Linked DNA regions of Homo sapiens: region 1 is linked to region 2. A link means that fine-mapping ties the variant in region 2 to the expression of a gene that starts in the linked region. Tissue or cell type: stomach. Region 2 holds a variant in brackets; the other region holds the start of a gene. All regions are shown on one strand. Distances are between the middles of the regions.

Region 1 (5,148 bases), 190 kb before region 2:
TTAGGCGTAATTCTTCATCTAATGGCTATACTTAGCGATAGTTAACAGCAAGAACATTATGTGAATACTGGCCAAACCCAGACTAGGAACCGCTAATAATGAAACATGTTCAACTGCAATAAAATGTGGACACTTTATCATACTTCAACTGAATAACAAATACTTTTGCAAAAATCTACTAACCATCAATATTTCACTCTTTGCACAATACAATCATGACTTAGTGCTTAAAGAAGTATGGATTCTGTGTTTGGCCAATGATGACAGGCTTAAATTTACCTAATACCATCAACATTTAAACAGAACATGTCAGATCTTAACTCCTCTGACTTTATGACTACGCTCATCTTGTCAGATTTCAACAGTTTTCTGTCAGGCAACACCTGGCAAAATAAACCGTTTTCATATAAATTGTAGACATCCCATAATGAGTATGGAGTGATGTGCTGTTATTCCTGTTTCTCCCTGTTTTATTTTCAACTTGAGTTTACATCTGCATCCTCTGAGATAAGCAAAGATGCCCTATGCCAACATTTTTACCCAAGATTTTGTTTTAAAAAAAGAAAACACTAAAAACCATTAAAACAACTTAGGAATCACAACACTTTATTAGTTAGAGTTTCTAACATAGCACTGTTATGGCTCATTCACTTTTGCTTTACACCTAAGGGAGTAAGTGCACAGCCAAGGCTAATAAAAACTAACTTGGCTATTTCTTGGTTTTTGATGGAACCATTCATATGATAAATATACATTTTTTCCCATTATACTATACTCTTGCAAAATAATTTTTTTCTACAAAGGTTATGAGATATCATAAAAATGTCTAATGCATCTGGTTTAAGAATCCAATGCCTCTTTCACATATTTCTGCATCTGTTCACAAAATCCCTTTGACTTCAAAGGAAGCTTTTCAAGAGAAAAAGAAGATACATACAGGAAAAGTGGCCATAAATTTTTAGTAGTCCTTTTCTAAGGCCATTTTAATAACAGCATTGTGGGACAAGTATCTTCCTCAGAATCCTAAAATATCACAAATGATATTAATGACTAAAGATCTGTATAAAGATTTATGATTTCAAAACGTTTTTCTGGTTATTAAAAAGTGTGTGTCTTCAATTTAGACATGTGAAAAATATGTAATGCTATAAAAGGAAACAAATAACTTTTAACCCACTATTTAGGAAGGCCAAAGCAAAATAAAAAAGTTAAAAATGTTTGTTCCCTTCCAGGCTTTTTTTCTATGTATACGTTTATATAAACACTTATATATAAACATAACATCGTAATAACACTATGAACACAATTTTGTATCTTTTCTCAGTCTTTCAAAAAACCACATTAATCTTTCAAACCATCATTTTCAATGACTGAAATTATATGTAGATTTATACTTTAAAAAAATACTCTCACATTTAATACTTATTCTACTCAAAGCTAAATTAAAGGTTTAGAAACATTCATCGGTACTGGAAATTCTACATCTTGAAACAATCTAGATTAATAATTAACTTTAATAGCCCTATTCATAAATGCCACTGAAACAATAGTAGAGGTTTAAGAAATTTTTTCTTTAGCATTTATAATGACTTAGTGTCTTAAACTTCCCTGGGCAGTCATTAGCAGGCTGCAGTTTGTCTTTTTTTTCTCTCTCTCTTTGATTCTCTATTCTCAAGACATCTTCAATTCTTTAGTTTGGAATAAGGGGAAGTTTGGGTCTACGGCTTAGCTACTTTGATAGCATAGGTGTTAATGTGCTATAAATTATAAATAATCATCTCATTCTAGTTCTGCAGAATCAAACCCTCAAATTTCAAGGAGAGGAATTTTTGATAAATTTATCTAATTTTGAATTGTCTTACCTAACATTGCTGCTGAAATTTAAGGTGACATTTGAATAGTTGTTTGCTGACAAGCAGCTTTCCGGTATATATTAATATATTAGCTTATAAGAATTTTGTGAGGCTCACATTAATAAAAAACGGAAGTTCAAAAAATTTATGACATGACTAGAAAAATAAGTTGAACTTAAATTTTGGTTTTCATAATTACTCTCATTGGCTTTGTTTTGGCTTCATAATCATGGAACTATAGATTTTCCAGAGGTTGAAAGAACATTAACGTGTCAATCAGTCCAGCTCTCTTCCTCCACTCAATATGAGCAAAAAAAGAAGAAAAGTCCCAGAGAGATTGTGACTTGTCACACAGCTGTCAAGTGGCAGACCAAACCCTTGACCTCTAGGCTACCTTCCTGTCTAGCGCTGTTTTCAACACAACAGTTACAATAGGTGCGACATCCTCACACCTACTCATTATGGCAATACATATGCAAATGATGCCGGGAAATTACCTAATAAAATCACATTCTCTCCTTTCTCTCTAGTTCCCAGAATATATCTCCCGTAGATAAAGTATGTCAAAGTGCTTGCCACTGAGACTGTACTTGGAAGACGTTTGGTAAAATCCTGAATAACTGAAAGGGTATCCCCTCCCCCTGACTTTTTTGCTATGAGGGTAAAATTCCAAATATTTAAGACAATTCCCAATAAGACCAGGCCGCGACATGGTCTCCGTACGACGAGATTAATGGTAACAGCAGTGTTGTCAAGCGCAGGACAGGACAAACTCTGTAGCAGCTTGCGGTCACTCTTTCACAGCCTGCTAGATAGAGCAGTGCTGTGGAGCCACCAGGAGCAACCAGAATGGAAGATGCACTGACACTTGCTCAAGTACCACACTGCCAACCTGCTGCCCCGACCCAAGCTGCCCAATGCCTAACAAAACTTCTCTACTCTCTCCGATAGCCCCTTAGCGTGTTGTTAGGGTAAGGAGGGTAAAAACAGTAATAAGACCACAAGAAGAGCAGTCTCTAAAACAACCCGTCTCTGAAAACATCACACGCGGGGTAGGCTCACCGCGTTGCCCGGCAACAGCGGCGGCGCTCCGCTCCCAGAACTGGAGGTGGCGGCAAGAGGTCAGAAAGCGGCGCGCTTTTTCCACCAAGAAACCTTTACGTCATCACGTATCCTTGCAACGTCACTACGCTCTGAGCAGGCCGACAGTCATAGACGAGTAGACCTTAGGCGAGGGAAGGCATGTACTTTCCCTAAGAAGCGGGAGGAGAGAAATAAATAGAGGGCAGTGGGATGAGAAGAACCTCGCGGGATGGGAAGCCGCGGAGGGAAGGGCCGTCTTTGGTTACCTGGAGAGCGGGAGCAGCTGCGGATCCCTTATGAAGTGCCCGGATGAAGCTCCAGCGCTCACGCGCTTTCCGCATTGAGTGCAGCGCCATCTTGAGAAGGGCGGAGCCGTCTTGTTTGGAATGACGTCTGTTCAGAGAGCCAATCCCAGTCTCGCGACTCCTGCTTGCTGGGCGCGGCTTGGGCCTCCAGGCTGCGCAGCGCAGCCGCTATCGGGCGGACTGCAGTTCTTGCCGAGCAGGTGGGGACAGGAGCGGGGTGGGGCTTTAGTGTTTTTCCCTGGATCCCTTGTCTGCTCAGCCTTCCTGGAAGGAGAATTTCCTTGGGGGTTATTAGTAGCAACGCTTTAGACTGGAAGAAAGTCAAGTAGGCTGCATTTCTGATCTTAGCTATGTGAAGGCAACCTTTAAAAAGTTTGTTTAGAAACTCCCAGTTCTCTTAGAGGGTAATATAAGTGGTCTTTTTAGACATGTGTGGCCTCATTTCCCTTTTTTTTCTTTGAGACAAGGTCTCACTCTCGCCCAGGCTGGAGTGCAATGGCGCGATCTCGGCTCACTGCAACCTCCACCTCCCAGACTCAAGCTATTCTCCTGCCTCAGCCTCCTGAGTAGCTGGGACCACAAGGGTGCGCCACCACGCCCGGCTAATTTTTGTATTTTGGTGGAGACAGGGTTTCACCATGTTGCCCAGGCTCTCTCAAACTCCTGAGCTCAAGCCAAGCCATCTGCCTCGGCCTCCTAAAGTGCTGGGATTACAGGCATGTGCCACCGCACTGGACTTATGTGGCCTTATTTCATTCGTCCTGTAAACTTTGTTGAACCCTACCGTAATGTGCTGGGCACTGAAGGTACAGAGAAAGACATATCTTGTCTTCAAGTTGTGTACAGTCTAATAGAGTAGCGGATAAATAAATGATGTACACTTAATAGGTGTTAAAGAAGCAAGCACCGCAAGTTTTAAGGAGGAGTGGTTATGACTGTGGTGTTTCAACCTAGTCTAGGGAAGGCTGCAGGAAGGTTATACCTGATGGAAGAAATTGTTTTGTTTGGGGTTATGAGAAAGTTTAATACAGTTTTTCTGCTTCTGTTAATTCACCTAAAAATCTCCCAGACAGATAACGAGTGTTTCAGTAAAAATATAACTGGAAGAAATTCATGACAATTCCTTTATGTGTTTTGTTTATAATTCATCCAGCTACTGAAAATTACCAAGGAGAGGTAGGAGATAAGAGATGCCTATAAAGGAGCTGAAATCTACCAGGGTAAGACAAAACAGTAAATTAAAACCATATAGGATAATCTTGTAGGTATACAAAGTACTGGTGAAGTTCAAGTATAATTGGTGTAATTTAGAAGTGAGCAGGAAAGGGATGAAGGCAAAAAAAAAACTAGGAAATCAAGTTATAGTCTTCAACAAAGCTGATCAGTTTGGTTTTGGCTGTTAAATTTGAGGTGCTTGTAGTACTTCCAAAATGTGATGCCCATTAAATAGATACATGGGTCTGGAGCTCAGAAGAGATTTGAACTACCAAACAGATGGTAATTGAAACCAAGGAAATCCTTGAGACCATCAGATAGAGTTTGTGGAGTGAAAGTAGCCAGATGATGGAAATAAAGGAGCCAAGAGGTGTTGTAGAACCCAAAGAATGTGATATTACTGAGACCCTGGAAACAAACCTTGCCAGGGGAAGGGGGATATATGTTATGCCTTGTAAAATGCAGTTTAATAAATGCCCTACATGTTTTACTCATACATAGAGCAAAGCATTATAGTACAGTGTTTTACATATATTTTATTAATGAGATTACATGACCCTAGCAATTAGCAAGATTAGCTTTCTGACATCTTTAGTCATCTAGATAGCAAGATAAAACCTAGCAATAAGACTATGGTGCACCAAAAGCTGTCAAAGGGTGTACCTACTTTATTTCTTCAAGAAGTAGTTCTT
Region 2 (5,148 bases):
GGGTTTTAACATAAATTACTCCATTTTGATTCGGACAACTTTCATAACTGCTTACCATCTGTGCCTCTGTGTATAAAAGTGGACATACTAAAATTTTTCCTTAGGGCTACAACTAAACATCCAGCCTAGCCCTTAGCCAGCACCAAGGAAGAGGCCTGGGGGATAGAGGAACAAATAATGAGACCAAGTCAGGCCATCCCCCATGGGGTGAGGCCTGCAGGTAGGTGGGCCCAGTGTGGTGTACCTCTAGCACAGTGCCTGGCACAAAATTGCAGTTTATTTTCTGAATAAATAACTCTTGGATCAATTGGTTGCTCTCTGGGAATGTGACTTTGCTGTTGAGTTGTGCAGAGTACTCTCTGTCTCCAAGCCAATCCCAGCTTCAGTATCTCACCCCACAATCCACATTTCCCAGTGTCTGGAGTAACAACAATGACCTGGGGCTGGGCTCTCAGCAAGTCAAACCCTGCCTCAACAAACCCAAACTGCTTTGGGGACCAATGTGATGCAAATGTGTACTGAATCCCCTGAATTCCCCCTGGTGATCCTGTCCTGTAACAGGCCCTCCCCATCCCCTCAGGCCAGTGCATTCAGGAAATCAGTGACCACAGGATGGTTTCTCAGCTGGAGGGAAGGTCAGCCTGCATCTGAGCATCTTAGAACATGTTATTTTGTTCCCACTGGTCAATCCCGTCCAAGCTGTACACATAGTGCCTAAGCCACGTTTGTTACTGCAGGCCTGTCTTCGGAAAGGTCACTGAACAGAAGGAGGAGGCACCTTACTCTCTTTTGTTACGTCTTCACCACTTTTGTCTAAAGGGAAGTTTAGCTGGAGGGCTGAGCACGCAGACAGGTTTCTGACTGTGCCACATAGATCCCACATTGCTTCTCTGCCATGATTTATCATCTGTGACTTGACATGTTCTGCACACACGGGCATGTTGTACACATTGAGACATGCTTCCTGCATTCAAAGATTTTCCCATATTGAGGGCATTTTCCTGGTGCAGAATTGAAGACTGAATTGAGGCATTCAGATTGACCTCAACATCTACGGGTCTGGAGGAGGTTTGGGACGTTTCCTTTTCTTCTCTTCAGGGGCCCACTCCTGTTGTAAAGAGCAGCAGCATTTATAATGAGGGCCCAGGAAATGCGGGGGAGAGGGGAGAGCCTGCTATCTCTGCAGTGGGTGACTGTTGTTTCCCTGATCAACAATGTATCATATCCCAGCCTAAGCCTGCCTTTCTCCTTCCCCCTCCACATGGGGAGGGGCCGTGGGCTCAGAGCTCACCTGGAATGCCTCTGGTTGCTGAAGGGCTGGATGGAGACTCTGAGACAACCTGATGGATCATCTCATAAACAGAGCCTGCAGGAAGGAAAAGAAAATTATGCCAGCATAATGCACTTACGAGAAATAGATACGTGCGGTGCAGGGAGAAATGCTTTGATATTAAAATTTTTGTAACTTAAAAAGGCATGAAAAATGATACCGACCACTAACTAATCAACATTCCTTTGCGAATACAGCTTCAGTTCCTAACCAAAAACACATCCCTGCTATTGTCTTGTCTGGATCCAGATGCAAACATGATTAATTAAGTTTCTGGTGAGGAGTGGGACGAGGGCAGTGGGAACTGATGGCTTGCTGAGGATCCTTTTCATATACAGGCCTGGGGAGAATCCCTTAGTCTGGGTGCCTATTTCCCTCCACATGTCAGGGCTTACCCCGTGCACTGACAGCCACGGGGGCAGTGAGTAGGCTGCAGCCAGACCCATGGAGTGAGGCAGTGAGAGGCTGAAAGGAGAGGCTCTACAGACAGTACAGGGAGGCTCTTGGTATCTCCCATTGCCACTGCACAGCACAGCACGGCAGAGTAGCAAACGCATATGCCATGTCTTGTTGGGAGACCTGGGCCCTGCTCCAGACTGCTACCAAGTAGTTTGGGACCTTGGATGAGCTGCCTCAATTTCTCCATTTGTGAAATTGGGAGGTGACAGCGTGCTGGCAGCCCTCGCAGCCCTCGCTCTCGGCCTTGGTGCCTGCCTACTCTGGCCGCCCTTGAGGAGCCCTTCGGCCCACGGCTGCACTGTGGGAGCCCCTTTCTGGGCTGGCCAAGGCTGGAGCCAGCTCCCTCAGCTTGCCGGGAGGTGTGGAGGGAGAAGCGCGGGCAGGAACCAGGGCTGCTCATGGGGCTTGCCGGCCAGCGCGAGTTCTGGGTGGGCATGGGCTCAGTGCCTGCGCACTCTGAGCGGCCGGCAGGCCTGCGAACCCCGGGCAGTGAGGGGCTTAGCTCCTGGGCCAGCAGCTGCTGTGCTCAATTTCTCGCCGGGCCTTAGCTGCCTCCCCGCGGGGCAGGGCTCGGGACCTGCAGCCCACCATGCCTGAGCCTCCTCCCGCCGTGGGCTCCTGTGTGGCTGGAGCCTCCCCGAGGAGCACCGCCCCCTGCTCCACCGCTCCCAGTCCCTCAACCACCCAAGGGCTGAGGAGTGCGGGCGCATGGCACGGGACTGGCAGGCAGCTCCACCTGCGGCACCGGTACCGGATCCACTGGGTGAAGCCAGCTGGGCTCCTGAGTCTGGTGGGGACTTGGAGAACCTTGGTGTAGACACTCTGTATCTAGCTAATCTAGTGGGGATGTGGAGAACTTTTGTGTCTAGCTAAGGGATTGTAAATACACCAGTCGGCACTCTGTATCTAGCTCAAGGTTTGTAAACACACCAATCAGCACCCTGTGTCTAGCTCAGGGTTTGTGAATGCACCAATGGACACTCTGTATCTGGCTACTCTGATGGGGACTAGGAGAACCTTTGTGTCTAGCTCAGGGATTGTAAACGCACCAATCAGCACCCTGTCAAAACGGACCATTCAGCTCTCTGTAAAACAGACCAATCGGCTCTCTGTAAAATGGACCAATCAGCAGGATGTGGGTGGGGCCAGATAAGAGAATAAAAGCAGGCTGCCCCAGCCAGCAGGCACAACCCTCTCGCCTCACCTGCCGCAGTGTGGAAGTTTTGTTCTTTGGCTCTTTGCAAAAAATGTTGCTGCTGTTCACTCATTGGGTCTA[C/T]ACTACCTTTATGAGCTGTAACACTCACTGGGAAGGTCTGCAGCTTCACTCCTGAAGCCAGCGAGACCACGAACCCACCGGGAGGAACAAACAATTCCAGACGCGCCGCCTTAAGAGCTGTAGCAGTCACGGCCGGGCACGGTGGCTCACGCCTGTAATCCCAGCACTTTGGGAGGCCGAGACGGGCGGATCACGAGGTCAGGAGATCGAGACCATCCTGGCTAACACGGTGAAACCCCGTCTCTACTAAAAATACAAAAAAAATTAGCTGGGCATGGTGGCGCACGCCTGTAGTCCCAGCTACACGGGAGGCTGAGGCAGGAGAATGGCGTGAACCCGGGAGGCGGAGCTTGCAGTGAGTCGAGATCGCGCCACTGCACTTCAGCCTGGGCGACAGAGCGAAACTCCGTCTCAAAAAAAAAAAAAAAAAAGAGCTGTAGCAGTCACAGCAAAGGTATGCAGCTTCACTCCTGAGTCAGCGAGACCAGGAACCCACCACAAGGAAGAAACTCCGAACACATCCGAACATCAGAAGGAACAAATTCTGGACACGCTGCCTTTAAGAACTGTAACACTCAGCGCGAGGGTCCCCTGCTTCATTCTTGAAGTCAGTGAGACCAAGAACCCACCAATTCCAGACACAAAAGGAGAGGTTGGATTAAATGTTCCTCAAAGTCTTCCATTTCTGGCTTTTTATTCCAGTGCCCAAAGTCCTTCACACAAAGCAGGTGTCTTATCAGTTGATTGGTCAGGCATGGCCACTATTTTTGGCCGTGGGCAAAGGAGTCTGGTGGGGACGGGGCTGAGAAGTATGCTAGGTGAGTGTCTCTGGCACAAATGGCTGAGCTGCAGAGCCCCAAGCGGCATGGCAGGGACCAGGAGACCCGATTCCTGATCTGCCGCAGTTAACCTGGTGACTATGAGTGAGACACACAACTGCTCTCCATCTCAGTGTCCCCATTAGGAAACAGAAACACCAGGCCCAACCTACCCAAGTGTGTCAGGAAACTGAGAACTGCTCTGGTCTCATGCTGGGACGGTGGCACAGTACACCAAGTGGTATCTTCTCCCAAAGTCTGCTCCTGTGGTAGGAGTCATAGGTCATTGAAGTACACTATAATTGAGTGGTTAAGGTGGTGAGATCCAAAGTCAGGCTGCCTGCATTCAGATCATCCAGCATCCTAACCATTAGGCAAGTTACAGAACTCCTTTGGGCCTTGACTTTATCTGTAAAATGGGAATAATAATCACAGAGCATACCTCATGGGATTATTATGAAGATTAAACACGTTAAAAACTTAAAAATGCTTCTAATTATGCCTGGCACGTTCAGCAGGTATTACATAGGTGTTAGTTTTGTTACTGCCAACCTCTCTCAAGCTTTGGGTGCCCACCAAATGTCCCTTTAGTGTGCACAGACTTGTGTCTTCTTCCAGGAGAGGGTAAGGAAAGCTGCCCAAACTTTCAGCTGCATGGAACAAGTACCTTCATTCATTCATTTCCAGGACAGAGATCTCCGAGTGCCCACAAGGTACCAAGCCCTATGCTTTGGAGGGTCAACGTGACTTTCCACCTTGGCTACCACCTGCATCCACCAGGAGAGCACACAGTGGGTGCCTTCCCTGCATGGTGAACAGGAGCAGCCTTGTGTATGAGTGAAAGAGTTTTATAAGGCCAGCTGGACCCCAGGGTGGTGCCGTGCCAGGTATAACGCCAGAAGCTTCCCATCATACTTTAAGACTCTAGTGAGGGGATTTGAGCCAGAGCCAAGACTAGGATTTAGTGAGCTATTTGATTGGAGGTTTCGCTGCCTCCATCTAAAGCCAATTGATTCCACTAGTGGTTTACCCTTTCTCAACATCAGCTGTGACTGGCTGATTTTTTAAGATTACTATCCACACCCTCTCAAACATTAGAACAATGAATTTCCCAGTTCAAGTTCTATATTTTCTCAATTCCAGAGGAAAGAAAATGACTACTACATGTGTGTGATTTTGTCCCTGGGAGCATCTATGAAATATGCAGCATTCTCTTTCTAGCTGGGAAATCACTTTAAAAATACTATCTCTAATTCATCTTCATG

Evidence for each region. PIP is the estimated chance that this variant, and not a neighbour inherited with it, causes the effect.
Region 1: it holds the start of WARS2-AS1, and the variant in region 2 is fine-mapped to the expression of WARS2-AS1 in stomach (GTEx, PIP 0.93).

The regions. Positions count from the first base shown.
Region 1 is chr1:119,137,353-119,142,500 of GRCh38, forward strand. WARS2-AS1 (WARS2 antisense RNA 1) reads left to right here and starts at 3,044. Exons shown (of 7, transcript NR_125975.1): 1 at 3,044-3,441; 2 at 4,395-4,461. WARS2 (tryptophanyl tRNA synthetase 2, mitochondrial) reads right to left here and starts at 3,301. Exons shown (of 6, transcript NM_015836.4): 1 at 3,203-3,301. The coding sequence starts at 3,292. RefSeq lists an enhancer at 3,073-3,382.
Region 2 is chr1:119,331,597-119,336,744 of GRCh38, forward strand. The region is part of intron 2 of LINC01780 (long intergenic non-protein coding RNA 1780); the gene reads left to right. Among named protein-coding and RNA genes, the nearest start is that of LINC01780, 5.9 kb to the left of the region's middle. The variant C/T (reference allele first, on the strand shown) is at 3,066.